Regions from separate parts of the Homo sapiens genome. Here all the other regions are linked to region 1. Evidence: fine-mapped expression QTL. A gene starts in region 1. Each other region holds a variant in brackets. All regions are shown on one strand. Distances are from middle to middle. Region 1 holds the start of FBXO10 (F-box protein 10). Region 2 overlaps FBXO10 (F-box protein 10). Region 3 overlaps FBXO10 (F-box protein 10).

The links. PIP is the estimated chance that this variant, and not a neighbour inherited with it, causes the effect.
Region 2: its variant is fine-mapped to the expression of FBXO10 in whole blood (TOPMed, PIP above 0.99). The same link has a PIP of 0.9 or more in T cells.
Region 3: its variant is fine-mapped to the expression of FBXO10 in whole blood (TOPMed, PIP above 0.99).

The regions. Positions count from the first base shown.
Region 1 is chr9:37,571,959-37,582,236 of GRCh38, reverse strand. FBXO10 (F-box protein 10) reads left to right here and starts at 5,857. Exons shown (of 11, transcript NM_012166.3): 1 at 5,857-6,026. RefSeq lists a silencer at 5,824-6,203.
Region 2 is chr9:37,516,774-37,527,051 of GRCh38, reverse strand. It overlaps FBXO10 (F-box protein 10), which reads left to right. Exons shown (of 11, transcript NM_012166.3): 6 at 1,880-1,950; 7 at 4,075-4,227; 8 at 5,214-5,483; 9 at 8,614-8,927. Among named protein-coding and RNA genes, the nearest start is that of POLR1E, 36 kb to the right of the region's middle. The variant T/C (reference allele first, on the strand shown) is at 4,237.
Region 3 is chr9:37,528,104-37,538,381 of GRCh38, reverse strand. FBXO10 (F-box protein 10) reads left to right here. Exons shown (of 11, transcript NM_012166.3): 3 at 439-1,272; 4 at 6,324-6,473; 5 at 9,122-9,258. Among named protein-coding and RNA genes, the nearest start is that of FBXO10, 43 kb to the left of the region's middle. RefSeq lists a silencer at 6,458-6,517 and enhancers at 8,892-8,941, 9,042-9,411. The variant C/A (reference allele first, on the strand shown) is at 5,771.

The DNA of each region.
Region 1 (10,278 bases):
AACACAGATTTGAAGTGCACAGGTCCACTTACGTGCAGATTTTTTTCAAAAAATGCGTTGAAAAATCGGAGATTTGCAACAATTTGAAAAAAGCACACATATGTAGTCTAGAAATATTGAAAAAATTTAAGATAAAGGATGTCATGAATGCATAAAATATATGTAGATTGTAGTCTTACTCATAAAATGCACACATCTATTATAAAAAATTAAGATTTATCAAAACTTATGTACACAGACCATACATAGCACAATTTGAGGTCAAGAGAAAGATGCAGTATTAAATCATAACTGCATAAAATTATCTTTTGTAATAGTGTAATACAGTAAGTCCATAGCCACCTCTTGTTGCCACTGCAGGGAGCTCAAGTGTTATAGGTATCCACTTAAAATGCCATGTGACACTCATCTCTGCATGAGCAGTTCCTCGCTCCAGTAAATTGCAAATCAAAGTAAAAGCGATCCCTCTCTGTCTCATGTATTTTTTGTGTTTAATACCATACCACAAAACTTTGAATAACTCCATGGGATCTATACAGAGTGCCACTAGTGATGCTGGAAGTGCTCCCAGGAAGCAGAGAAAAGTCATGACATTAAAGGAAAAAGTTGAATTCTTGATATGTACTATAGATTGAGGTCTGCAGCTGTAGTTGCTCTGATTTCAGACACGACTAATCTTGTAAACAGACAACCTAAACTTAGAATCTAAATAAATACGGTATAGTACTGTCAATGCTTTTTCTCTCTGTGATTTTCTTAACATTTTCTCTAGCTTACTGTGTTGTAAGAATACAGTATATAATAGATAATGATACAAAATACATATTAATCTATTTTTTATGTTATCGGTAAGGTTTCTGTGCAACAGTAGGCTATTAGTAGTTAAGTTTTTGGGGAGTCAAAGTTACATGCAGATTTGTGACTGTGCAGGTGTCGGGGCCCCTAACTCCCACGTTTGTTCAAGTGCGGGGTATTTTCATTTCCACTTAAGTATATAGAGGCCAAAAATGCAAAAAAGAAAGAAACTATTACATAAACAGATGTACAAAGATAATACTGCATTTGAAATACAGTCACTTGAAATGTTCACTAATCAGCTTACATATTCAAGTATAAATTCGGTGAACAAAATGATTTAGGGACAGCGATATGTAATGTAAAAATTGTGGGTTGTTGGAAAGTAGAGATCTGTCTACATGGAAAGAATACTAGAATTAGGATTTCAATGTCCTAGATTATAGTTTCAGCTCTGCTATTTATCATGTGACTATGTGAGTCAGATTTTTTAGTTGCAAACACCAAAATCCAATTTTGACAGAAAAAGAAAAGTATTTTATTAAAAGGATAACAGGGAGTTCAGTATCACCAGGAGGCCTAGAGAATTAGGCTTGGAGAGTAGGCAACTGGAACATCACCCTTTGTTCCTTGGTCATACTCCACAGAGCTGGGGCAGTGAGGACGCCATTTCTGCTGAACATTAGGTGCCACCACTTACTTTGCCAAAGCCACATGCACAGAACCCTGGATCATGGCAGCCAGTGTTGCTCTAAGAACTTGCCGCACTTGCCATGGTCCCAGAGAAAATTATTCCAGAGACTTTATTGTGTCTCTGGTACTTAATTCAAAATCAAGAGTAATTTGTAGCATGATAGAATCACAAGGAGAAGCAGAGAAAATACCTGGAATTTCCACTTCTATAGTGAAAGGCATGTTCTGCTTCCCAGCAAACTCATAAACAAGGAATTCCCAAATGTAGGAAGGGACCTCAGATGCTGGGCAGCCAAAAAGCATGGCATGTCCACTATGTTGACCTGGGACACCACTCTGTGTGAGCCTACTTTTTCTGGAAAGCAAAGTAAATAAAGCTCCCATGGCTGAGGAGATTTTGTGTGTTCACTTATACATTTGCCAGTAAACACCAGCCAGGTGCCAGTGTATAAAGATGAGTAAGTTTCCTCTCGAGTCTAATGGTAGGATAGAGGCATGCAGAGGTGAGATGAGGGCAGAAAGAAGAGAGGGCTCAACTGTAGTTTGTGAATGATGTTCTTATATTTAAGTAGTTATATTTTTGGCTGGGCGCATTGGCTTACACCTGTAATCCCACCACTTTGGGAGGCCGAGGCAGGTGGATTACCTGAGGTCAGGAGTTTGAGACCAGACTAATCAATATGGTGAAACCCTGTCTCTACTGAAAATGCGAAAGCCTGTAGTCCCAGCTACTTGGGAGGCTGAGACAGAAGAATCGCTTGAACCCAGGAGGTGGAGGTTGCAGTGAGCTGAGACTGAGCCACTGCACTCCAGCCTGGGCAACAGAGCGAGACTCTGTTTCAAAAAAAAAAAAAAAAAAAAAAAACCCCTGGCCAGGTGTGGTGGCTCATGCCTGTAATCCCAGAGCTTTGGGAGGCTGAGGCGGGCGAATCACCTGAGGTCGGGAGTTTGAGACCAGCCTGGCCAACATGGTGAAACCCCGTCTCTACTAAAATACAAAAATTAGCTGGGCCTAGTGGCTGGTACCTGTTAATACCAGCTACGGGGGAGGCTGAAGCAGGACAATCGCTTGAACCTGGGAGGTGGGGGTTGCGGTGAGCCAAGATCATGCCATTGCACTCCAGTCTGGGCGACAAGAGCAAAACCCCATCTCAAAACAAACAAAAATTCCCATGTGGCACGTGATGCTTGCCCCACTAATAGGGAAGACAGCTTGCTCTTGTAGGACACTGCTGTAGCACTTTGAAAGTCAGCTGTTTTATACAAATACCAAAATGATAATGTTAGCTGGCACAAATCCAGAAACTCAAGCTTTTGATTGTTTATTGACAGTCATATCTGGACTGCCAGTTTCATGGAGTAAGATACTTTTCAAAGGATTAAATATGGCATAGCTTTGTCAGTCAGCAAGGTAAATCATCAGGCTCATTGCAGTGTGAGACTACCCCTGTGGTCTTTCTACTATACCTAGCTACTGTACAACTTTGTGTCTTAAAATAAATTGTTGGCTTTAGGTTTTAGTGTTTGGTTTTCTTATTTATAAAAGAGACCAGCTACATGGTAACTTAGACCTCACCCAGAATCATACCACATTCACCATATGGTAATAATAGATGGAATACATTTTTATGGAATATATTCTATAGAACCAGGGACTGAAAAAGGTCAGTAGGACCACGGGGTCAATTATTTCAGGCCACAATTTCGTGTAATAATTTCTTTTTCATAGTATTCTTGGTAAATTATGTTTCTATAGCTGATATTCTCTCGTAAATTCCGGAGGTCTGTATCCAACTCCTTTTCTTTTTTAGAGACAGGGTCTTGCTTCGTTGCCCAGGTTGGTCTCAAACTCCTGGGTTCAAGCGATCCTCCTGCCTCAGCCTCCTGAGTAGCTGGGATTACAAGTGAACTGCTTTTTTTTTTTTTTTTTTGAGACACAGTCTCACTCTGCCACTCAGGCTGGAGTGCAGTGGCGCACGATCTCTGCTCACTGCAACCACCACCTCCCAGGTTCAAGCGATTCTCCTGCCTCAGCCTCCTGATAGCTGGAATTACAGGCACGCGCCACCACACCCAGCCAATTTTTGTGTTTTTAATAGAGACGGCGTTTCACCATGTTGGTCAGTCTGGTCTCAAACTCCTGACCTCGTGATTCGTCCGTTCGACCTCCCAGAGTGCTGGGATTACAGGCGTGAGCCACCACGCCCAGCCGTGAATTGCTTTTTTAATCACTCCACTTGGATGACACACAGGCATCTCAAAATTAATTATTTTTAATTGATAGATAATTGTACATATTTATGGGGTACATGTGATATTTGACTCATGCATACAATACGTAATGATCAAATCAGGGTATTTAGAATATCCATCTCAAAAATTTATCATTTATTTGTATTGGGAGCATTTAAATCTAGCTATTTTGAAATATACAATAAATTATTGTTAACTACAGTCACCCTACTGTGCTATTGAACACTAAAATTTATTCCTTCTATCCATGTTTGTACCCATTAACCAACCTCTCTCTATCCCCTTCCCCTCCCAGCCTCTGGTAACTGTCATTCTACTTGCCAACTGCATGAGATCAACTTTTTAGCTCCCACGTATGAGTGAGAACATGTGATATTTGTCTTTCTATGCGTGGCTTATTTCACTTTACATAATGACCTCCAGTTCCATCTGTGTTGCTGCAAATGACAGGCTGAATAGTATTCTGTTGTGTATATATGCCACATTCTTTTTATCCATTCATCTGTTGATGAAGACTTAGGTTGCTTCCATATCTTGGCTATTGCGAATAGTGCTGCAATAAACATGGGGATCCAGGCATACCTTTGACATACTGATTTCCATTCCTGGATAAATATCCAGCAGTGGGACTGCTGGATCATATGGCAGTTCTAGTTTTACTTTTTTGAGAAACCTCCATGCATTTTTCTATACTGGCTGTATAATTCAGTGTATGAGAGTTCCCTTTTCTCCATGTCCTCACCAGCATTTGTTATTTTTTTGTCTTTTTGTTAATAGTCATTCTAACTGGCAGTGTCAAATTTAACAAGTTCAAATGGGAGTTCTTGATCTCCCCCCGCTTCCAAATATATTCCCCTTACAATAGTTCCCATTTCAATAAATAGCACCTCCACGGGCCCAGTTAATAGGTTAAGCTACCAATCTCTGCTTCCACCCTTAACTCCTGTCTTCACATAGTAGCTGACATACTGCTTTAAAAGGTATCAAATCCTCCACCCCTTCGATGGCTTCCTGTTACGTACAATTTTAAAATCCTTATCATGGCCTATTAAGTGCTGCGTGATCTGGCCCCTACCTACCTTTCTGACCTCACTTATATTGTTCTTCCCGTTAAAAAGCTTCAGACAAGCTAGACGTTTTCCATTTCCACAAAGAGCGATCTTTTCTCCTCCAACCCAACCCACCTGGTCCAAGAGTTTTCACAGGGCTTACCCTGCCCCTCTTCCATTTGGCTAACTCTTTATCTTACTCTGAGAGGTCTTCCTTGACTACCCTTCCTTGGTCCCTAATTTATTTAGTTTTATTTTTGAAACAAGAGTCTCGCCCTGTCACCCAGGCTGGAGTGCAGTGGCACAATCATGGCTCACTGTTAACCTCGAACTCCTGAGCTCAAGTGATCTTTCCTCCAGCCTCGGCCTGCAAAAGCGCTGGGATTACAGGCATGAACACCTGGCCCCTATTTTTAAATTACAGCTCCTTCCGTGCATTTTCTACAATTTTAAACACATATTGGTTTAAATGACACTTGATTACCGTCTACCTTCTCCACTACAGAATTAACTTCAGGAGAAGAGGAACCATATCTGCTTTGTTCACTTTTGTGCCCATAATAGTAACGGCACCAGCAGCAACAAACATACAGCATTTACTTTGTGGCAGGCATTATGCTAAGCGCCATACATACAACTAATTTAATATGTACTCCTAGTACATTGTCTGGCAGGTAGCCAATGGTCAGTTTGTTCAGTGAATGAACCCAGACCCTACATGCTCATCTACAGGGTGCCTAGCACCCCAGGAAACTGCTCCTTATACTGTTAGATAACTGGTGCTCGCAGGAATCTTATTTACACTGTATTGGCCTTAGCATGCCTCCCTGCAGTTTCCACCCACTGGTTCTATTTCTGCCCCTTCTGGGGCCACGCAACACGAGCCTGAATCGTCCTTCCGCAAGCTCGCCTTTGCAGTACCCGAAGCCCCACGCGCCCCCTCCTCGTCTGCCTTCCTCCCGCCTCCCGGTGCCCCTCCTGCAGATACAGCTTTTATGCGCGGTGGTCGGGAAGCCCAGCCCCGGCCAGCCAGCTGCTCCCGGCATCCTTCGCCGCCTTGCGCGTCACATGACGGCGGCGGCTCCGCACGATCCCCAGGCAGCTGTCCGCCCCCGGGCGGGGCTGGCCGCACGCCGCAATCCTACCGGCTGCTGCGGCTCCAGCGGGGGCGGCGGGTGGCTTCCAGGGCACCGGCGGCCGCGGCCCGGACTCCGCGGTGGGCGAGCGCCCTGTGAGGTAAGCGGCCGGTGCGCAGAGGCTGCGGGCGAACTTGGGCGGCCGGGGGAGGGGACCCGGGGCGCTTCCCCAGGCGACCGACCCAGGAGGCGCCGCTCAGTCCTGGCCGAGGCTGAGCGTCTGGTCGGGCTTCGGGCATCAGGGGTCTGGCAGGACCATGAGGCGTACCCTCAGGCCGCCCGCGGCTCCGCGGTCCCCCGGCATCCGGAGGCTCAGGCGCGCCGACGGAGAGCTATGCCTTGGTTTACCCTCCCGTAAAACTACCGGACGCGGAGCATGTATCTCCGCGGTGCCTCCAGCCCTGAGATTTTTCGAGTGTGTAAGTAAAGTCGAAGAAGAAGAAGCTGACTCTTGGGATGGGAAGAGCCTTCACCTAGGAACGCAGGGGCAAATATGGGGCTGGGCACCCACTGTGTATTTTATGCAAATCTCAAGGGGCAAATATGGGGCTGGGCACCCACTGTGTATTTTATGCAAATCTCAAGCCTCTCAGACGGTTTTTTCATCTTTAAACAAAAAGTGATAACCCCTGTCCTGCCTCGCTCTTAGGACTACAGTGAAGAACAGAGGGGAAAGTCATTTGAGGAGCCAGAACTCTGGAGTCAGTTAGCTCTGGTTCAGATCACAGTTCTGCCACTTACTGGCTTTGTGACCTTCAGCCAGATTGATTCCTCATCTGTGAAAAGGAGGTAATAAGCTCATGGGTTGCTGGGAGGATTAATTGTAAAGGGTTTAGCACACAGTGTCTGGCACAAAAGCCTCAGTAGATAATGCTGTTAATATAAGCATTATTAGTAAGCTAGAGATTGCCCCACGTGAAGGGCTTTTTCAGCAGAATAATCACATTTGTTTCTATATTTTTAGTCCTGAAAACTGCCGTTTTGGTTTGTAAGACCTTTTCTTTTTCTCATTCTGGGCCCCCTTTGCCTTCTCTTTTACAATTGGCATATGAACCTGTTGTTCCTACCATATGAGTCAGGCTGGATGGGAACATCAATTTACTTGAGCAGATTGGTATCAGATTCCCTCTGAGGGGAGAGAAAAGTGCCAGGCATGTGTAGCCACCGAAAAAAAAAACACAGTACGGTGATTGACTGTCAGAGCTGGAGGATGCCTGGGAAACCATCTAATCCAGCTGTCTCCTTTGCAAATGGAGAGACTGGACCCAGAAGGACGACAGGACTTTGATTTTGCTCAGGACCCAACAGAGTGCTGGCAGTGGGTAGTGGAGAGGATGGACCTTTTACCAGGCACTGTGCTTTCCCTCAGTTCTAATCTCATTCCGCATTTATTCAGCAGCTATATGGAACCCCTACTCTGTCTTGTACACCTACTAGGATCTGGACATAGAGCTGTGAACAAGACACACATGGTCCCTGTCCTCAAGGGGCTTTTTCCAGAGCTAGCTATGTTAGTTTGAGGTTATATAATGTTTTATATATATATCCATCTCCCTGCCCGTTCTCAGTACATTTTAAAATAACAATAAGCTGCAGCTCCCAGTGAGCTTACCTCATAACAGCTGGCCTCCAGGGATAGGAGCACACAGAGAGGCCTGAATTGTTTCCTGATCCCTCACACCAGTTCCAGAGCCCTTGCTGGAGCCTGGTGAGATTTGAGAGACTGGAGAAAAAGCTGCTTTATCAGGGCTTTTAAGAAAGGATTTCCTTCTGCCCTGGAGCACTTGGATTTCTTTGTCTTTCTGGTTTCAAGCCTATTATTGTTTTTAGATTTCTGAGAAGAGCCGCCTTCACCATAGTGCCATCATTTTGGTTGCCGTGGTTATCAGGGGAATTGTATTTTTATGATCGCACAAGTAGCTGTTAAGCAATAAATGCTCAAGCAGTCACCAGGTCACCATGAGTTTCCGTTCTCTGGTTTCTTTCAGTTGCAGTGCAGTTACACTATCCCTTCCTTCCCTCCCTCCTTTTTTCCTTCAATAAACGTGCATTGGTGGCAGTGCCAAGAGGAGTGGGAGTGAGTAGAAATAGATAAAAACATACGTAGACTCTGGCCTTAGGGACCTCAGATTCTTTGGCAGGGATAAAACTGAGGGCAGATTAGTGGGGGCTCTGATGATGTAGATAGGGAGTCAGCAAGAGCTCTCAGAGATGGGAGGGATGGTGTCCTGGGCAACCAAGAAGACATCACTTGCTTTTCACAGGAAGATGTGAAGTAAACAAATTCCTTGTACCTGCTTCAGTCAGGAAATAGATGGAACAAGTGTTTTGTTCTTTCAGTTTGCCTTAATGAATGAACCTATTCTTGAGTTACCTGTCATGGGTTTTGTTTGAAATGTCTGCTAATTTCTCTCATTACCCTCTTTTAGTTTAGTGATTATTAGTTTCCCACTCGTCTAAAATGTTTGATACTGTATACATAAAGGAATGTACACAAAGAGACATTTGATTAAGATTTTGTCTATTTCAGTTTAGATGTTTAACATGTGTGTCTCATTTCACAAGTTGGGTTTACATTCACTCTTGTCTTTCCTTATTTTTTTCTAAGTAGACTCCCAAGTCCTCTCTAATGTCCTTATTAGTGAGAATTCCAGTGTCTCCTTCTCCAGCCTCTCTGGGGGCTTATACATTCCAATGGGGTCAGTCTTACTGTCACTCTCCAGAGGAGAGAGAACTGCATTGTCTGAGCAGTCCACACACATTGTCATTCCTGACACAGCTATATGGCATAACTGTTGAAGAGCTGTCCTACACAGTCCACGGATGTGTGATCACTGCTGCTCAATGCCCTTATTGGACCAAATCTCTGCCAGCATGATTCCATGCTTGGTTTTCCAAGGTTAGAGCTTGTTTCATTTATGCTTGCGTGCTCAGCCATTCTCCCCAAAGCACCTCACTCTGGGCTTTTGTTGAGCTTTTCACCAGGCTGGGTTCCCCTGGTGTCCTGGAGAGTTCTCTTTTAGGGCATTTGGGGCCCTTCCTGCTAGCAACCTTGGTCATGGTCATCTAGACCACCCAAGAGATGTCTCTGTTTTCAAACTTCTTATCAGAGTTTGTGGGCTCAGTCCCTTCTCTTCTTAACCTTAACCCAAATCCCTTTGGCAAATTGGTTCCACATACTCTCCAGGGTTCTGCCTACCGATGATTCTCAGGAATGACAGCCTTCAACAAGATAGCTACCCCAGGACTTTGGGTGCCTACTCACCTTACTTTTCCATATGTAAAGAGGGGTCGTCAGGTCACCCTGAGCCACACAGATTTAGGCATTCTGGAAAATTTACTTGGCATGTACCCTGTTAGGGATTTTGCAGGCAAGGTTTTAATTTAAAAATAAAGGATTTTAGTTTTCTCAATTTTTCTAAGAAACAATAATCAGTATATTTATTTCATTTATTTGTTTTAAACTTTTTGAATATGAAATACAGCAAATATGCATGGTAAAAAACACAATATATAGTTTAGCAAATAACTCTAAAGGAAATACACACGTAATCACCAACATGTCAAGAACTGGAACATTGCCAATACTCAGTACCTGCTTCCAAATCATAATTTCCTCCCCTAGAAGAAATCATCTTGTGATAATCATTTTTTTGCTTTTCTTTGTAATTATATCACCTATGTATATATCCCTAAACAATATAGTTTTAAGTTTTTTAATTTCATACATATAGAATCATACTTTTGCATTTTGTGTTTTGCTTCTTTTGCTCAACTTGTTTGTGAGATGCATCCACGTGGCGGCCTCACTTATTTTCGTTGCCAACAGTGTTTCATGGTATGGCTGTGTCACAATAGATGTATTCATCCTGTGGTTGATGGATACTTGAGTTGCTTATAGTTTCTGACTGCCAAGTACATCCTTAGATATTTTCTGATGTATTTGAACAAGTTTCTTTAGGTTATATATGTTAGAGTACAATTGCTTTACTAGATAGTGTCGAACAGTTTACTTTCCTACCAGGAGTATATGAGAGTTCCAGTTGCTTCATATCCTGGCAAATAGTTGCTTTTATTGGTTTTAATATTTTAACTATTTTCATGTGTGTGTCTTGATATTTCTTGTGGTTTTAACTTGCTCTCCTTGGTTACTCTTGAGGTTGAGCACTTTTTTCTTTTTTCTTTTTTTTGGAAACAGGGTCTTGCTTTGTCACCCAGGCTGGATTGCAGTGGCGTGATCATGGCTTACTGTAGCCTCAACCTCCTAGGCTCAAGAGATCTCTCCCACCTCAGCCCCCTGAGCAGCTGGGACAGCCAGATAATTATTTTATTTTTTTTTGTAGAGACCAGGT
Region 2 (10,278 bases), 55 kb after region 1:
CGGTGAAACCCCATCTCTACTAAAAATATAAAAAATAGCCAGGTATGGTGGCAGGTGCCTGTAATCCCAGCTACTTGGGAGGCTGAGGCAGGAGAATCGCTTGAACCCGGGAGGCGAAGGTTGCAGTGAGCCGAGATCGTGCCACTGCACTCCAGCCTGGGTGACAAGAGCGAGACTCCATTTCAATAAATAAATAAATAAATAAATAAATAAATAAATAAATAAATAAAATATTTTAAAAAATAAATAAATAAGAGAGCAGGAGATGTGAGGACAGAAGCAGAAGTCAGAGTGATGAGGCCACAGCCCAAGAAGTGCAGGCGGCCTCTAGGAGCTGGAAAGGATGAGGAGTGGATTCTCCCCGGAGCCTCCAGATAGAACACAGGTCTGCTGACACTTTGATTTTAGCCCTGTGAAACCCATTTTGAACTCCTGGCCTCCTGAACTGAAAGATAGAAATTTGTATTGTTTTAAGCCACCAAGTTTGTGGTAATTTGTTATAGTAACAATAGGAAACTAATACACCAAGCTGAAAAGTCTGGGCTTTACCTTGGGGATGCTGGGGAACCATGAAAGAGTTTTGGGTGAGGAATATCATAATTAGATCAGTGTTGGGTTTTTAAAACATAGTCATCTTGAGAGAATAGGTTGTGCTTTTTTCCTTTGTTTCTTTGCAATGAGAGATAAGAGTCTGGAGCAGGATACGGAATGAAGTTTAAGATCCCTGTAATGGCCTGGATGAGACAAACCATAGGATCTATTTTTGCCACAGAAAGTTATATTTTTTGTCTTTTTATATGTTATATATGTTTCTCTTTTTTCCTTGGATGCAGAGAAGCACAGGACTCAAATTGTGCTCATCTGCAGTTAATATCCCATCCTGGGCTCTTGGTACACTGATCTGTCCCCTTCTTCTAAGTGTTTTCTCATCCCTCCTGTATCTTTATTCTGCTTGCCCCATGTACACACATACACACACTTCTCCAGGTGGCCACGGATCCTTTCTGGAGGTGAGATTTGTAGTAAAAATATGCCAGGGCTCAGTTACTCATGCTGGTAGTCCCAGCTACTTGGGAGGCTGAGGTGGGAGGATCACTTGAGTGCAAGAGGTTGAGGCTAGCCTGAGCAACATAGCGAGAACCCATGTCTTAAACAAAAAAATTGTAAACATTTTCTGGTTCAAACATTTGAGGGTTGGATAAAATACATATAAGGCCAGGCGCGGTGGCTCATGCCTGTAATCCCAGCACTTTAGGAGGCTGAGGCGGATGGGTCACTTGAGGCCAGGAGTTCGAGACCAGCCTGGGCAACGTAGCAAAACCCCATCTCTACAAAAAGTACAAAAAATTAGCTGGATGTGGTGGCGCACACGTGTAATCCAGGCTGAGGCACGAACATCGCTTGAACCCAGGAGGTGGAGGTTGCAGTGAGCTGAGATTGTGCCACTGCACTCCAGCATGGGCAACAGAGCAAGACCTCAAAAAAAAAAATGTATATATATATGCATGGGTATATATGTAGATGACAGTCAAGTGAGGCTACAGTGAACTGGATATCATTGTGCGTGTATAGCATAGTTGGGGGTTTAGTTTTTGGTCAAGCTGTCCCAGTGACAACTAAACATTTCTATATGCCTGGCTTATAAAGGGACTTTAGGAAATGCTTTTATGCCCCTGTGGACTTGAGCCATAGGGAGGCTCAAGTGATCCTCCACCCCAGCCTCCCAAGAAGCTGGGACTACAGGTGCACACCACCACACCCGGCTAATTTTTTTGTATTTTTTGTAGAGACAGGGTTTCCATGAAAGAAGGCAGTCTCCTGGAAGCATGACATTGATGCCCTGGGCTCACCTCTTTGTTTTGTTTTCCTTCCACTTTAGCGGGAACCACATCTTCAAGGGCCGTGCTGCCGGCATAGCAGTGAATGAGAACGGCAAAGGCCTCATCACAGGTACGGATGGGAACTGCCTGGCACCTGGCAGCCAGGCCAAGGTCCCCTGGCGTCACCCCCCAGCTTCAGGACCTCACACTGCTCCTTTACCCCCACAGACTATGGCCTCTTTCTCTGACTGGTGGGCTGGAGCTCAGGGACGCCAGCTGCATGGTGGCTGTGCTTCTTACAGGAGGGCCTAACACAGAGTGGGTGTCTGCTCCTTCCAGGCCCAGAGCCGACAGGCCCTCACAAGGTGGCTCACAGAACAGTTTCAGAAGCACTGATGCCCAACCACCTGTCCAAATCCCTCCTCTTGGTCTTTGTGCGGACCTCTGCCTGCTCTGGAAACCTCCGCCCGGCTAACCCCTGCTTATCCTTTGGGTCTTAGCTTAACTGTCACTTCCTCAGGGAAGCCTTCCCTGACTTCCCCATTGTACACAGATACACTCACTATACCCAGGATGCCTCCTCTCTAGGGCCTTTGACTTAATTTCTTAGTGGTTTGTGGTGTCCGTCTCCTCTGTTATAAAGTGGTAAATTCCACAAGGTGAGGGTCAAGTCCATCTGGTACATCAATGTAGCCTCAGCACAGAGCAGAGCCAGGCCTGGGATATGAAAGGGATTCCGCAAATACTGGTCCAGGGAATCCCCCTGACTGAACTTATCAGACATGGATTGAGCACGTGTGGTATACAGGCCGTGTTCCAGGAGCTACAAGTGCAGCAGTGAACGAGGCTGTCAGCCACTGACATTTTAGGAGAGGAAGCGAATAAATAAATAAAAGCCTACGTATATGAGCAAAAAACATCCCATCTGAGGGTGACAAGTGCTCTATGGATAATTAAGGCAAAAGAGGGACTGGGTAGGCATTTGGGATTGTGTGGTCAGGGCAGCCCTCTGAGAAGGTGACAAGGAAACCAGACCCTGAGTGGGAGTGGCTGGAGGAGCTGGGAAAGAACCTTCCGTGTAGGGCCGCCTGTGAGAACAGACTTGGCATGGCCGAGTGGACATCGCTTGTGGGACTGGAGTGTGGTGCACAAGGGGCCTGCAGTGGGGACATGGAGACAGGAAGAGGCCAGTCACACAGAGACTCCTGAGCCATTGCAGGTGAGGCTAGCGCCTTCTCACAGGCTTGTGGGTAAATGGCCACATTCTGCCTCTGAGGACTCTAAAGCCAGTTTATTTATTTATTTTTTTTGAGACGGAATTTCACTCACTCTTGTTGCCCAGGCTGGAGTGCAATGGCGCGATCTCGGCTCACTGCAACCTCCGCCTCCCAGGTTCAAGTGATTCTTCTGCCTCAGCCTCCCGAGTAGCTGGGATTACAGGCATGTGCCACCACGCCCAATTTTGTATTTTTAGTAGAGACGGGGTTTCTCCATGTTGGTCAGGCTGGTCTCGAACTCCCGACCTCAGGTGATCCGCCCGTCTCAGCCTCCCAAAGTGCTGGGGTTACAGGCGTGAGCCACCGCACCCGGCCTATTCTTTGTTTTGTTTCCTTTTTGTTTGGTTGGTTGGTTTTTTGGACACCAGTGTCACTCACCAAAGCTAGTTTATTCTTTTTTTTGAGGCAGGGTCTCAGTCTGTCATCCAGGCCAGAGTGCAGTGGCTCGATTATAGCCCACTGCAGCCCTGACCTCCAGGGTTCAAGTGATCCTCCCACCCAGCCTCCCAAGAAGCTGGGACTACAGGCACGCACCACCACACCTGGCTAATTTTTTTTGTATTTTTTTTTAGAGACAGGATTTCCCCATTTTGCCCAGGATGGTCTGGAACTCCTGGGCTCAAGTGATCTACCCGCCTTGGCCTCCTAAAGTACTGGGATTACAGGCATGAGCCACCATGCCTGGCCAAAACTAGTTCATTTTTAATCATCAGTCCTCAAGGCCATTGGGTGTATAGTAGGTGCCGGGGAGATAGGAGTGCACAAGATAGACACAAGCCTTGCCCTTGGGGAAAGGAGTCAGCAGATAAGTCCCTGAAACATCAGACAGCAGACAAGATTTACAGTGCTAATTGCTGGCAGGGTAAGGCCAGGGCCTTCTGGTCTGGAGTAGCCTTGATCAAAACTGTCCAAGTCCTATTTGCCAGCACTGGAGCTGGCCCTTGGGTACTGACCTTCTTTTCTGCTTCTCTCCATAGAAAATGTCATCCGTGAGAATCAGTGGGGAGGTGTGGACATCCGCCGTGGAGGGATCCCCGTTCTCAGGAGTAACCTCATCTGCTTTGGCTATTCAGATGGTGTGGTTGTGGGAGACGAAGGCAAAGGCCTCATAGAAGGAAATACCATCTACGGTGAGGAGC[T/C]TGTTCCCAACCCAGCCGGGGAGGCAGGAAGCCCAGGTTCCATCTCCAGCTTGTGGGTCCTGAGAAGGTCACTGCCTTTCCCTGTGCCTCAAAGACCTCATCTGAACAGGCACTCTCAGGCCACAGTCACCCAGGCCCTCCCAGAACAAAGAGCCTCTTACAAATCACATTGTAGTCCAGATTGACCCCGTGGGGTTAGCAAAGCAGAAGGCTTTATCCCCTTTTAAAATAGCAAAAGACAGGAGTTGTGTCATGTCTTAAGGACAGGACCATTTCAGCCCTGGCTCATGTGCATCTAACTCCTCTTATCCTTTCTTTTGATCCCAGAGAACGGAAAATATAATGGGAAAACAAGATAATCACAGGAAGAAAACTCTTCTCACTCACGCAGTGACTTTGGGCAGAGCCTTCATCTGTCTGGACTCTATCTCTAATAATACAGTGATAATAATAAAGATGACTCAGGCCCACCTCTCTACTCAGCCCTTTCTATGCATGATCACATTTAATCCTCATGACTGCCTTCTGAAGGAGGCACGGTTATTAACCCCATTTAAAAGATGAGAAAACTGAGGGACAGAGAGAGGTCTGGTAACCTGCTCAGGGTCTCACAGCTGGGAAGTGGTAGGGCTGGGATTCCAACTGAGGCTGCCTCCTATGCAGGGAGGGATTGGTGCCCCCTTGGCACTGTCACTGTGGGCTCATGTGCTTCTGATGTGGACATGTGGCCTGACAGTCCTCAGAGCACTTTCACACTGTGTGGAACGAGCCGAGCTTGTGAGGTTCACCTGATCCTGATGACCTCTCTTGTGTGAAGGTGAAGTCTGCAGCTAGAGCCATCAGGTGGCTTGTCCGAGGTCATTAGCAAGGCAGGGACTCTCTCCCAGGCCAGTGGCTTTTGTTTCCCCTCTCAGGGAGACTCAGGTGCCGCTTCACCTGAGTTCAGTGTCGGTGACCAGCTCCTCTCACTGTCCCAGCTAACAAGGGCTGTGGTGTGTGGATGATGTCGTCCAGCCTCCCCCATGTCACCAGCAACCACGTCAGCTACAATGGCCTGTATGGAGTGGCAGTATTTAGCCAGAAGGATGGCTCCAGCGAGTTACCTCGAGGCCACAGGGCTCAAGAGAACTTCAGCGAGGATGGGGACGCCATCCTCTGGGAGACAGAGCTGGAGAAGGAGGACGACCCACTGCGCCGGCCCATCACCATAGCTCTTGTTGAGTCTAACAGTATTAATCACAATGGAGGTGAGTATACCCCCTCAGCCCCTGCTCAAGAACCTTCCATGGCTCCCCACTGTCTTTTTTTTTCTCCAATTTAAAACTTTTAATTTAATTTAAATTTAAAAGTAAACTTTAATGTCAAAGATGCAAACCTGGGTAGGGCAGAAAAATCACACACAAGGTTGCCACTTCACACTTGGAGGGTTGCACAGCGGCCAGGCAGAGGCGCTCCTCACTTCCCAGACAGTGTGGGGGCCAGGGAGAGGCGCTCCTCACTTCCCAGACAGCGTGGGGGCCAGGGAGAGGTGCTCCTCACTTCCCAGACGGTGGGGCGGCCGAGCAGAGGTGCTTCTTATTTTTGAGACGGTGCGGCCGCCAGGCAGGGCCTTCTGCAGACTGATCCCAACTTGCCCTCAGGCCTCATCAGCCACTTCTTCCAGCCTGATCCCCAATCCTCCTGTATTTATTCATTAAACTTGAATCCATTCTTTCCTGCCTCCTAACCTGCTGACCTCACTCATGCCTTTCTCCCATCCACACGTCCCAAACTAACTTGAACTTCAAAACCTGTTGTGAATATCCCCCTTCATTCCTTCCTCCTTTGAACTGGGCCCTCCCCATCCCCACTGGCACTTGTTATGAGGCCTCGCGACTGTATTTATTTCTGTGGCTGTTTCATCAACACTGATAGGCCATGAACTTGAGACAAAGAACTGAAGCCCACCCAGCTCAGTGCCCCTGTCCCTGCAGTACCAAATCCCACCTCTGGCACACATGCTTTTAATCAACTCTAGGATACATTTCTCAAAATTCAACATCTCCCACGAGATGCATATCATGGTTTAATTGGCAGTGAGTTTTCCTTCTTAGAGAGGCAGAAAATAAAAGTGTTTTAAATCCATGTTATCCTAAACCTGATGAAAAATGGAGGCCAGGTGCCAGGGATCAAGCCTGTAATCCCAGGACTTTGGGAGGCCAAGACTGGGGGATTGCTTGAGGCCAGGTGTTCAAGACCCGCCTGGGCAACATAACAAGACTTGGTTTCTACAAAAAAAAAAAAAAAAAAAAAAGAAGAAGAAGGAGTAGAGAAAGAAAAATTAGTTGGATCTGGTGGCATGTGCCTGTGGTCCCAGCTACTCAGGAGGCGGGGGGATCGCTTGAGCCCAGGAGTTCAAGGCTGCAGTGAGGTGTGATTGCACCACGGTATTCTAGGTGCTCAGAGCTCAGGAGTGACAGGAGCAAGACCCTGTCTTAAAAGGAAAAAAAAAAAAAAAAAAAAGATGGTAGAAGATGTTTGATATTTCTTGAATTAAAAAAAAATAATTACTGTGTAGTTCACCTAACTCCAGGGCTCCCAAAGCCTCCTGATTATCAAAATCACTGTGGGGTGGGGGTGGGAGGGTAGGATGGATGGGTGGGTCGGGAAATGGAGGAAGGCTTATTCAGAACAGATTCCTGGGCCAGGCGCAGTGGCTCACACCTGTAACCCTAACACTTTGAGAGGCCAAGGCAGGAGGATCGCTTGAGTTTAGGAGTTCAAGACCAGACTAGGCAACATAGAGAGACCTCAATCTCTACTGAGAAAAAAAAAATTTTTTTCAGATTAGCTGGGCATGGTGGTACATGCCTGTAGTTCCAACTACTAGGGAGGCTGAAGTAGGAGGATGCTTGAGCTCAGGACTCAGAGTTCGAGGTTGCAGTGAGCTATGATGGTGCCACTGCACTACTGCCTGGGCAATAGAGCAAGACCCTGTCTCTAAAACAAAATAAAATTAAAAGAGATTCCTGGGCCTGGTAAGCACTTGCTTCTGGTAGTGGTAGAGGACAGGGAGATGGATAACCAGCAGCCCCAACCCACTTATTCAGAAAATGAGTTCTGTCTCCTCCCAGGTCAGAGGTTCCTCCATGTGGCCATGCTGTCTGTCCGGTACGACAGGCAAAGCCACCTACGTTCACAAATACTTATTTTTGTTGTTCTCAACCAAGCCAGGAGAAGCAACAGGCTGGTGCCACCAAGAGATTTGAGCTTGCAGGCTCATGGCTCCAGACACTGCTGCAGGGCCCCAGTCATTGTCCTGCACACAACCTCCCCCAGCACTGCCCCAACCCTTGTTGCTGTTGGTGGGCAGAGGGACCTACCGCAGAGCCCTCCTCTCCTCGCCCCCGGGTCTGGCTGCCCTGCTTTCTTTTCCTGACAAGCCATGGAGCTCTAATCCTGCTGACTTGGGGTTTTTCTCCTCATGTACCTAGTGTCTCTAAGTACACACAACCGCAAGCGTCAGTTTTCCTTTCCCAAATTTCAAACACATTTTTGACACATATTACTCGCTTAGTAAGTTTTTGTACTCCAAAATTACAGAACTTACATTAAGAAGAAAATTTCCGGCCAGGCATGGTGGCTCACGCCTGTAATCCCAGCACTTTGGGAGGCCGAGGCAGGTGGATCACGAGGTCAGGAGATCGAGACCATCCTGGCTAACACGGTGAAACCATGTCTCTACTAAAAATACAAAAAATTAGCCGGGCGTGGTGGCGGGTGCCTGTAGTCCCAGCCACTCAGGAGGCTGAGGCAGAAGAATGGTGTGAACCCGGGAGGCGGAGCTTGTAGTGAGCCGAGATGGCGCCACCGCACTCCAACCTGGGCGACAGAGCGAGACTCCGTCTCAAAAAAAAAAAAAAGAAAATTTCCCCAAACAGTAGGGAGGCAGATTCCAGGTTAGTGTAGGAAGGAGAGCAAAGCAAAACCCTCTAATGAGTAGATCTGCCTGTCCAGAGGGGGAGTGAGCAGCCTTGAGGCGGCAGTGAGCACCCCGTCAGGGAGGTGTAAGCGGCAGTAGGATGGCGGTGGTGCAGGAGGCATTCAAGCACACGGTGGGAGCTCAGGCCAGAGGAGCCTTCTCACATGGTGTTTCCCTGGCTACACTGAATAAGGACTTCATGCAGAAGAACCAGAGTTTTGTTGACGCACCTGGATTTCCTCCTGCTGTTTCATCAGCTTGGAAGACGCAAACTCAAGGGTTGTTTCTGAGTGTTGGTACCTCTTCTTCTCCACTCCGTTCTCCCGGAGTGCACAATTCAGGGAAGGCTTTTCCTGACTGGTGGTGTCAGGGCTGACCCTGGGACCCCCTGTGCTTTCCAACCCTTCCACCCATAGCCTCAGGACTCTATGTCCAGAGCAGCGAGGCACTGCATGTCATCACCAATGTGATCCACGCGAATGGGGACAGAGGCATTACTGTGGCCCAGAGCAGCCAACCCACCCGAGTGGCCAACAACAGCATCTCCTGCAACCGGCAAAGTGGGGTCAAGGTTGAGGCCCAGTGCAAAGTGGAGCTCCGGGGCAATGGTATCTATGACAACAGAGGCCACGGCATTATCACCAAGGGCGACAGCACCATCGTCATTGAAAACGATATCATTGGCAACCGGGGCAGCGGGCTGCAGCTGCTGCCCAGGTCCGACACTAAAGTGAGTATGTCTGCATGTGTGTGACGTGTGGTGCCCACACAGGGCACAACCCTGGGATAGTCCTCGTGGCCTCTGCTGAGAACAGAACCGTAATCACTCAGCACTACAAGGGACAGTATCCCTCCTGCCAGGACTCAGCCTGGGAAATGTGGGTGGGACTTCCCACAGGGGGGGACGGAGAAGCTGAGTCCTGAAGGATGAACAAGGGCTCACCAGCAGGAAGCCAGGGATGGGGTGTCCCCTCCTTGTCATGGTGTTGGGAGCCTCCCGAGTTATCTTCATGGTCTCCGGGTCAAGGTCAGGACTATTTCAGCTCTCTTTCCTTAACAGAATAATCATGCACAGTGCCTGCTGTACAGTAGATGCTTCATGAAGAGAGAGATCCTGCCTTGGGGCCTTTGCATACACTCTTCCCTATATACCCTGCATACCTCCTGCCCGCCTTGCACTGCAGTCCTGCAGCTTAGCTGTATCTTTGTTCAGGAAGAGTCCCTGAGCTCCCACCTCCCACCCCAGGCTGTTTGAGTTATCTCTTGTCTAGTGCTTTTGTCCACACATACCTCACAGAGCACTCCCCACAGGGCTTGGTCCTCACAGAGCACTCCCCACAGGGCTTGGTATCTCTTCCTTCACCTATTTGTCTCCCCACCGGACTGAGCTCTGAGCACCTTTCTATGCAGAGCTCCGTTTCACTGTGGAGCCAAACAGATCTTGTTCCTGCCCTTATGGAATTACGATCCCAAGGGCTCTATTTTTATTTTTAGTTCAACAGTTTTTGGGGTACAGGTGGTTTTTGGTTATATGGATAAGTTCTTTAGTGGTGAATTCTGAGATTTTGGTGCCCCTGTCACTCAAGCAGTGTACACTGTACCCAATATATAGTCTTTTATCCCTCACCCTGCTCCCACCCTTCCCCCTGAGTCACCAAAGTCCATTATATCATTCTTATGCCTTTTCTTCGTCATTAGCATAGCTCCCACTTATAAGTAGTGAGCAAGTAAGGACATAGGATATTTGGTTTTCCGTTTCTGAGTTACTTCTCTTAGAATAATGGCCTCCAAGTCCATCCAAATTGCTGCAAAGGCTGTTATTTCATTCTGTTTTATGGCTGAGTAGTATTCTGTGGTATATATATACCACCTTTTTTTTGTTTTTTTTTTTTTTGAGATGGAGTTTCACTCTTTTGCCCAGGCTGGAGTGCAATGACATGATCTCAGCTCACTGCAACCTCCGCCTCCCAGATTCAAGCCATTCTCCTGCCTCAGCCTCCCAAGTAGCTGGGATTACAGGCATGTGCCGCCATGCCCAGCTAATTTTGTATTTTTAGTAGAGATACCATGTTGGTCAGGCT
Region 3 (10,278 bases), 44 kb after region 1:
AGTATACCTTGTCCCCTCTCTTTAGAGACATATTTTGCTGTGCACCACGTGCATCAGTTGCCACACAGTCAGAACTCTTTGCCAGCACATGCGGCTAGGCCTCTCTCACTGCCTGTCCTAGCCCTGGCACGTGATTGAGACTTGAGGTTTTAGGAGGAGTCATGCTGCAGTGTGAACTTTTCTGCCATCATCTACTTGTCTCCCTTCCTTTGAGATTAGAAGGATGGAGGTGCGGGCAGCTCCAGTTTCCCTCCCTCTCTGATGCAGAGCAGCTCCCCAGTTCCTTTTGGGGACAGCTGACATCCAGACCCCAGTGGGGAGGGGAAGATGATCAGCAGAACAAATGGCCTTTCCATGTTCTACCCTCCTTAAAGGGCAGCTAGAGTCCAAAACCAATCTCATCCCTCTTACAGCCGTTTTCTTCTTTTCATTCCCCAGACAACATCAGGTCACGTCCAGTTTGACAACTGCAACTTTGAGAACGGGCACATCCAGGTCCATGGCCCGGGTACTTGCCAAGTGAAGTTCTGTACCTTCAAAAACACCCATATCTTCCTGCACAACGTGCCCCTGTGTGTCCTGGAAAACTGTGAATTTGTGGGCAGTGAAAACAACTCTGTGACTGTTGAGGGTCACCCATCTGCAGATAAGAACTGGGCCTACAAGTATCTACTAGGGCTTATCAAGTCCTCACCCACTTTTCTCCCCACAGAGGACTCTGACTTTTTAATGTCCCTGGACCTAGAGAGCCGGGACCAGGCCTGGAGCCCAAAGACCTGTGACATTGTTATCGAGGGCAGCCAGAGCCCTACCAGCCCAGCCTCTAGCTCCCCAAAGCCAGGCTCCAAGGCTGGCTCACAGGAGGCAGAGGTGGGTAGTGATGGTGAAAGGGTGGCCCAGACCCCGGACAGCAGCGATGGAGGCCTGAGTCCCAGCGGTGAGGATGAAGATGAGGACCAGCTGATGTACAGACTATCCTACCAAGTGCAGGGCCCACGCCCTGTATTGGGGGGCTCATTTCTGGGCCCACCTCTACCAGGAGCATCCATTCAGCTGCCCAGCTGCCTAGTGCTGAACTCACTGCAGCAGGAGCTGCAGAAGGATAAGGAGGCCATGGCACTGGCCAACTCCGTGCAGGGCTGCCTCATCCGCAAGTGCCTCTTCCGGGACGGGAAGGGAGGCGTCTTCGTCTGCTCCCACGGCAGAGCCAAGATGGAAGGAAACATCTTCCGGAACCTGACTTACGCAGTGCGGTGTATACATAATAGCAAGGTGCTGTCATGACTTTAGATTGGTCAGGGGGCTCCTGTGGCTATATGTAGGAAGGGTTTGATGGGGCTATTTTGCATTTTAAAAATAATTTTCTTTAAACTTATTCACGCACGCTTGACGTCATGCCCATCATCTGATTTGGAAAGGACAGAAACGCTTTTTCTCATTTCCCAGAAAGAGAGGCCCAGAGAGAGAACGTGGCTTACTCAGGGTCACATAGCAAGTTAGGCAGAATTGAGACTAGAAACTCGGGTCTCCTGCCTCTTTTCACTATGTCATGCTGCTGCTCACATATCTCACCATGTCGGAGTAGGAGAAACAAAGCCTGGATAAGAGAAAATTCAGGGAGATATGATTACTACCTTCACTCCAAACTGGAGTAGGGTTGTTGAGGAAACGTCTGTGCTGGGTACAATGAGAAGAAGGTCCAGGGAAAATTGGACACGTGATAAGAAGGGGTGGAGAGTGAGGGTGTCCCAACAGCAGAAACATCCTACGCCAGAGCCTGGGTGTGAGGTTGAATTCAACCATGCGGTGGGGCTAGGTTGAAGGATGAAGCTGGGGGTGAGCAAAAGCTACCTTACCCAGACCTGGAATCCCCCTTGAGACATTTGGGCCTTATGCTAAGAACAGTCCTTCTAGCCACTGCGACAATCAACACCTTCTATGTGCTGGGACTTAGGGCACCACAGGACAATCTGCAAATCCTGTAAATGGTTGATGACAGGAAGGCCTTCTGAAGGGAAAGACAGCCCATGCAGAAGAAAGCATGGCATAGCACCTAGATTCGAGTCTCACCTCTCCACTAACTCACTATGAACATGACCTTCACTTTCGTAAAATGAAAATAAGCATCCCTATTTTTCTTCTCTCACTGGCTATTGGAAGGTCCCATGCCGGAAGTATTCAGTAAACTAAAGAACATTGTACAAAGGTCACTCATGAGTGTTGCAGGCTTCTAAAATGGTTAATAGCAATCACATTTTAATTAATTTAAATTTAATTGTGTTTTACCCAGCCCACTTCCAAAGAGGATTTCAGGTGATGTTACTTTGAAAGCATAATGCAAGACTCCTGTACACATACATAAAAGAAAATGGCCAAATAAAAAGGGAAAGGTAATAGCTTTGCTGTCGTGACTACCACGATGAAAGGATCTGGCTCAAGCCCTCAAGGAGGGCATTCTTCCTTGCATAGTTATTGAGAATATGGCTTTCTAGTTAAAGTCTGGCTCTGCCCCTTAAGTCGGCAGGGTGAAGACGCGAGGCAAAGGAGGTGTGTGTGAAGGCCCAGAAGTAAGGGGAGACACACCCTTTCACCCTTTCAAGCAAGGCCTTGATCCTTGCTCCCCCACAGAAGGCTGTCACCTGGCTCTGTCCTCTAGAACATCCCAGGAGGGTAAAGGCTGGCAGGAGGAGCCTGGTTGCTTGAGGCTCCAAGAAGAAAAGTGTCAGCCGGGTGCTGTGGCTCAAGCCTGTAATCCTAGCACTTTGGGAGGCTGAGGCGGGCAGATTGCCTGAGCTCAGGAGTTCGAGACCAGCCTGGGCAACACGGTGAAACCCCGTCTCTACTAAAATAAAATAAAAAAAAAATAGCCAGGCATGGCAGCGGGCACTTGTAGTCCCAGCTACTCGGGAGGCTGAGGCAGGAGAATTGCTTGAACCCGGGAGGTGGAGGTTGCAAGTGAAAGCCAAGATTGCGCCACTGCATTCCAGCCTGGGTGACAGAGCAAGACTCCGTCTCCAAAAAAAAAATAAAAAAAAAGAAGTGTCACCGACTGTGATTTTCTTCTTTATGTGTCATAAATTTTAGTTGGAAGTCAGATATCTCATGTAGGACAGTGGGGACTGAGCTCTGTAGTATTTAGTTTGGAAATGGGCACACCTCTTCTTTTGCCTGGCTCTTAGGAGGTCGATCTAGTTAGGAGCTGAGCCCGTTTGAATTATGGTGATGATAGGATTATCCTCAGCGTCCCGTAGGCTTCAGCTCTCTCCAGCATTACCTCGTGCTAGTTTTCTCCGCTTCAGATCTTCCTTTGTGCCTGCTGCTCAGAGGCGATCTCCGCTGCTCTCGCCCTCCCTCAGCAGTAGACTGCCATTATTTGTCACCCTACGTGATGGCAGGGTTTCTCTCTTGTCCTGGGTCATCCTTAGTCTAGGTAGGTGCTGTGTCTGTGGTCTTGAGAGCAGGACTTTTTCAGTGACCCTGGCTCTACCCCCAGCACTAGGGGACCTCTGATGATCTGGGCCTAAGTCACTTTCCTCCCAACACCCCCAGAGATAAGAGTGTTTTCCCGCTGTTTCTCTGTGCATACGGTTTGTTTTGTAAGAGAGTTAGGGGGAAAGAACACAGGAGAGGGGCTTAATGCCTCTCTCACTTTTGTCCCCAGCCTGCGTCAGGAGGGTGCTGTCTCCAGTCTCTCATCTGCCCCCAGTTTTCTCCATGAACACCTAGTGAAGGCCACAGAGAAGTGAACAGGTGCAGCTACTCCCAGAGTTTCTGCACTCACACTAATTCACAGCTGGTCTTTAACAGTGCATTGAAAATGTTAGCTGAGTTCTTACTGGCTTGTATGACACATGCAGCCCTGCATTCAGCAGGGAAGTGCTCAGGCCTCGTCTCCTTGGAGGCGCCTGTCTTTCTTTTTTTGAGACGGAGTCTCACTCTTTCACCCAGGCCGGACTGCAGTGGCACGATCTGGGCTCACTGCACGCTCCGAAAGGCACCTGTCTTTTTGTAGCATTCAGGCTAGCCGGTTGTCCAGCAGCCTCAGCTCTGATGGGTTCCACCAGAAAGTCCATGTTTGTGTATATTCTTTCTACTTTCTCCATCCTAAGCAGAAGCTGAAACCTTACCATTTATACTCTTGTTCTACTTTAGTCTTCACAGAATTTTGTCCTAATGCAATATATTATTAGTAGTACACAATTTATAATAATATATTTTATTATTAATCTATAATTGTTTAAGACAGCATAGATAAACATTCCAGATTTTTTATATATTATCATGCTTTGGTATCCGTGGGGGCTTGGTTCCAGGATACTAAAATCCACAGATGCTCAAATCCCTTATATAAAATGTTATAGTATTTGCACCTAACCTGCACACATCCTCCCACACTTCAGTCATCTCTAGATTACTTATAATACCCAATACGATGCAAATGCTATGTAAATAGCTCTTCTACTGGGTTTTTTTGTTTGTTGGTTGTGTTTTTTTTGTTTTTTTTTTTTTGAGACGGAGTCTCCACTGTTTAGCCCAGGCTGGAGTGCAAAGATGTGATCTCAGCTCACTGCAACCTCTGCCTCCTGGGTTCAAGCGATTCTCCTGCCCCAGCCTCCCAAGTAGCTGAAACTACAGGCATGAGCCACCACGCCCAGCTAATTTGTTGTATTTTTAGTAGAGATGGGGTTTCACCATGTTGGCCAGGCTGGTCTCAAACTCCTGACCTCAGGTGATCCGCCCGCCTCAGCCTCCCAAAGTGCTGGGATTACAGGCATGAGCCAACACGTCCAGCCTATACTGTTGTTGTTTTTTTTAATTCAATTTTATTTTATTTTTGAGATAAGGTCTCACTCTGTCGCCCAGGCTGGAATACAGTGGCACAATCTCGGCTCACTGCAACCTCTGCCTCCCTGATTCAAGAGATTCTCCTGCCTTAGCCTCCTGAGTAGCTGGGACTACAGGCATCTGCCACCATGCCTGGCTAGTTTTTGTATTTTTAGTAGAAACGAGGCTTCACCGTGTTGGCCAGGCTGGTCTCAAACTCCTGACCTCAAGTGATCCGCCCACCTCGGCCTCCCAAAGTGCTGAGATTACAGACGTGAGCCACCACACCTGGCCTGTTTTTCAATTTTATTATTTATTATTTTTAATAATGTATATTCAATCCACAGTTGGTTGAATCCATGGATGCAGAACCCACAGACATGGGGGAGACAACTGTACTTATTAAACATAAAAAGAAAATGTAATTGGAAATATATCCCTTTATTAGCAGGTTGCTGGTTATGGGAACTTGTTTGAAGGAGGCTTTGTTATACCAATATCTCTAATCATCCCTTCATTTGGAGTCTCAGTAGTTTTCCACCCCAGGGTGATACACCATGAAAGATTTAGGATGTGCAAGAACAGGCCTTTGTTTTATAAAGTGGAAGGGAAGGTGGGAGAGGAGAACCTGTGTGGTACCTTACTGTCCGTGCCGTCTCAGACAGGTGGATTTTAGTGAAGGTGCATTGGAAGTGGTGGACCTGGAACTTTATTTCATTAAAAGTAGCTGCACCCTCGACCCCTGGGGAAATCTTCATGCAAACTTAGTGCATGTAAAGTTTGAAGACCACTCAGTCCCATCTTCCCCTAAGCGTCCTTTCTATCCCATCATCCAGCTATGCTGCTTGCAGGTTCTGAATATAGAGCACAGGGCCAAGCTTTGGTCCAGGTTTTAGTTAAAGGACCAGTGTGGGCCAGGTGTAGTGGTTCATGCCTGTAATGCCAG[C/A]AGTTTGGGAGGCCAAGGTGGGAGGATTGCTTGAGCCCAAGAGTTCCAGACCAGCCTGGGCAACATAGTGAGATTCCATCTCTACAAAAAATAGAAAAGTTAACAACAAAATTACTCCAGCCCACATCCATAGTAAAAATAAAAATAAACAAAAATTCAAAAATTAGCCTGTAGCCCCAGCTATTTGGGAGGCTGAGGTGGGAGGATCACGTGAGCCTGGGAGGCGGAGCTTGCAGTAAGCCGAGATCATGCCACTGCACTCCAGCCTGGGCAACAGAGCAAGACCCTGTCTCAAAAAAAAAAAAAAAAAAAAAAAAGAACCAATGTGAGACCGCTAAGGAGCCTGCAGGGCAAAGCCAGGTAGGGCCTGGAGATGGCTGTGTCCTGGGAGCACACAGTGGGAGCGTGGCTGTGCCAGCATTGAGGCGTTTCTCTTGCCTACGGGGTAAACTGCATGGATCAGGTGGTGCGGAAAAGACTCAGGTGTTCCTCCAGTGGTTTCTAAAAAAATATTTGTAACAGGAAAATAAATGGCTTTCTCTTTTCTGCTTAGATCATCATGCTCAGGAACGACATTTACCGCTGCCGAGCGTCAGGCATCTTTCTTCGCTTGGAGGGCGGTGGCTTGATTGCCGGCAACAACATTTACCACAATGCAGAGGCTGGTGTAGACATCCGGAAAAAGTCCAACCCACTCATACTGGTACTTTGTGTTCGTTCCCTATTCAGGGTGACTCTTGGTTTTCAGAAACCATTTGTGAGGATATTTAAATACACGTTGCCCTCTTGTATTTACGTGCTTCCTGTTTGCAGGTGGCTCCTGCTCTGTCCTCTGCGTGTCCTTGTGACTCTGTGTCTCTGTCTGTGTATTAGCAGTGACTTTGGACAAGTCATTTTCTGGTCATCTCCCCGTTAATAAGGAGGAGGACCAGAAAGACAGGGAAACCTCACAGGGCCCTCAGCCCTCATATGCTGTGGTTGGCTTTGAGTTTGATAAGGTTAAAGAGAGTGATGTCTGCCCTAAAGACACTTGGATCCAACAACAAACAAAAACAACAGCAGCGAACCCACCAAGTTAGTTTATTCACTTGTGTAAGAGGACATTTCGGGTATTTAGTTCTGAAGATTGTTTCGTGGTTATTGTGAGGGCATATTGAGTTTGATTTTCTACCCGTGTGAAAACCACTTAAAATCCTAGACTGTGTGGCCAGTGACACGAGAGACCAGCTCCTTTTCTGCTCTGGCTCTTCCTGAGAAGCAGGTTTGGGGTTTGGGGGTTTTTTATTTTGTTTTTACACAGATTTATGGGGTATGGGAGGAATTTTGTTACATGTATACTGAGAGACAGATTTCCTAGGAGTTGGGAAATATAACAGACTTTTTATGGGCTTGAAAAAATAATAGCCACCATTAATACATAATGCTTATTATACGCCAGATGCTTTTTTAAGCACTTCATAGATATTTACTTGTCATTTAATGCTTACAGAACCCTGTGAAGAATTATTATCATCCCTATTTTATAGTAAAGATATAGAGCCTGAAGAGGCAGAGGATCCTGCCCAAAGTCCTACACCTAGTGACAGAGCTGGGATTTGAATCCAGGCAGTCTGACTCACGGGTAATGCTGAACCCATCATATCTTAACTGCCCATAAAGATACAGAGAGAAGGCTGGGCACAGTGGCTTATGCCTGTAATCTCAGCACTTTGGGAGGCCAAGGCAGGAAGATCACTTGAGTCCAGGAGTTTAAGACCAGCCTGGGCAACATAGCAAGACCCTGTCTCTACAAAAAATTATAAAAATTAGCTGGGCATGGTAGCTCACACCTGTCGTCCCAGATACTTGGGAGGCGGAGGTGGGAGGTGGGAGGATCACTTGAGTCTGGGAGGTCATGGCTGCCATAACTATGGCATGGTCATGAGCCATGATTGTGCCACTGCACTCCAGCCTGGGCAACAGAGCGAGACCCTGTCTCAAAAAAAGAAAAAGAAAATACACACAGCTAGCCAGTGTCTCCTGCCAACCCCTTCCCCTCACTGTGTTTCTACCATGCAGCTGGTGGTTGATGCATGGCTTTGGCTTAGGAAATTATTGCCCCTCTGGCTAGAGAGATGAGGGGTTTGCCCTTCTGAGGACAGAGGGATAGCAGGTGGAGGGGGAAGGGAGTGGTATATTTTAGTCCTGGCGTTGTGAAAGGGTGTAGGGATGGAAATGCTGCTGCATACTCCTTTTGGAGCTCTTCAGCCCTGTGCGGGACTTCTCTTAGGCAGTGGTTGCTCTGATGAGCCTGCCAAATCCTTCAGGAAAAATCTGGAAAGAGTAAGAATAAGGAGAGTTTGCACACGAAACACTTTAAAGCCAACTAGAACTTTATTTCTGCGAAATCATTTTGGAAGAGATACAGCTAACTTCCCAATTTACAAAGTATAGAATTGGACTTCAGCTATAAATTAACTTAGAGTGAGATAATTTTATTATTATTCTAATCTAAAAATATTAAGTCACTGTGCAAAAGCAACTAACTGGAATGGGAAAGAGAAAAACTAGATTTCAGATCTGGCTTTTCCACAAATGTACTATATAATCGTGGGCCTGTTTTCCCATTCGCACAAAGAGATATTAGAAATGAATATCTTGCCGGGTGTGGTGGCTCACACCTGTAATCCCAGCACTTTGGGAGGCCAAGATGGGAGGATCACTGGAGGCCAGGAGTTCAAGACCAGCCTGGGCAATGAAGCAAAACCCTGTCTCTACCAAAAAAAAAAAAAAAAGATATCTCTTGGCATTCTGTAGCTCATACACCTTCTAAGACCTTATGCCCCATGGGACAGCTTGGCCCCCCAGTGTCTGCATCTTCCGCTGGCCCTCCCTAAATGAGAAAGGACTAGAAGTCAAACAACTGTGACCCCTCTCTGGATGTGGCCCCTTTAGGACTGCAGTTGGCCAACATTTGGTTGCACTGGGGTGCTGCCTTTCCTCAAGAGATGGCCTCCCTGGACCCTAGAAGTTATGGCCTGGCCAAATGATTATGTGTTTAGGGGACTCATTAGAGGCTCTGAAACTTTCAGTAGCCTGCCTTGCAGGTGAAGACCAAGAGCCCTCCTAAGAGGCTGGGCAGCGAAGACTCCAGTCTTCATAGTCTCCCTTACAGGTTTTCATGTGTGTACTGGTGCAGGAAGGGCAGGGCGGCAGTGTGACCCATTCCCTTTGTCACGGGCTAGGGCTCTTACAGTGACGTCATTTTCTCCACTGTGTTCATCCTGCCGCGGAGGTGTGGGCGGCACCTGGGCACTCTGCTTCGCTGACGTGTCTGATCTGGCTTCTGTGGTGTCTCATTTTCACTTGCAGTGTAACCAGATCCACCATGGCCTTCGCTCTGGCATTGTCGTCCTTGGCAATGGGAAAGGCATCATCCGGAACAATCAAATCTTTTCCAATAAGGAGGCTGGCATTTACATCCTGTACCACGGAAACCCCGTTGTGAGGTGTGTGCTGCTGTTTCCCTCCTTCATCTTTGTTAACCTCCTCCCTGTCTCTCCTCCATTTGAAAACACTCTTTACGGAAACAACTGTACAGATGCAAGCAGAGAAGAGACTTCACTCATCATCCCACCCCAGTAACACAGCGGCTTTTGTGTTTATGTGCCCTTCCAGTGAACTCCGTGTAGGCGTTCTATTCGGCAGTCACTACTGAGCACTTCCAACATGGGCAGGCTCTGCTCCCTGGGAGCTTACTCTAGCCTGGAGAAATGGGCACAGAAGTACCCCCAGGCAGGGATGGAACAGAGATTTCAGCTCACCTAACAGTTTCAGTTACTTGCTAGTGGTGCCTGGGGGTGCTGTGTCAACATCCTGGTGCTGCACCTGGCCTCAGCACAAAAGCATGCTGTGGTCAGGGACTGATATAAGTGATAGGTGGGAGGCAGCAGTGGCAGTCCTGGGACCCTGTCTGCCATCCCAGCTCTAGTATGGGGCAGACTGTGATAAATGCTGTCAGAGTGGTACCAGAAGGAGAGACTCATTCTGACTAGGAGGATGTGGGAAGGCCTCATTTAGGAGGTAGCATCAGAGTCAGACTTTGGAATATGGGTAAGACTTGGACTCATGGAGATAGGGGTAGGGAGGGGTCGGTGGATGTTCCTAGTAATGGAACAGCATGAGCAAAGGCAGCAGGGCACAGCAGATTCAGGGGTTAGCAAACCGTTGACGGTGGCTTGAGAAAAAATCTGACATGGTGTGACAGTGCTATAGAATATTTTAAATTGGGATGGTCCCAGAATATCTTGGGCCCTGTGGTCACTGCAGTGTGACCCTTGACGTCCTTGCGGCAGACCATCTGTGCCACACAGCAGAGTGGAAAGGAATGATGGAAAGAAAGGCTTGGGCCAGATGAGGAAGGCCTTATGTAGACCAAGCTGAGGCGGGGGAGCCTATTCTGTCTACACAGCGGGGACTCATTAAAGGCTCTGAGCAGAAGACTCACACAGTTATGTCTGTGCTTTAGG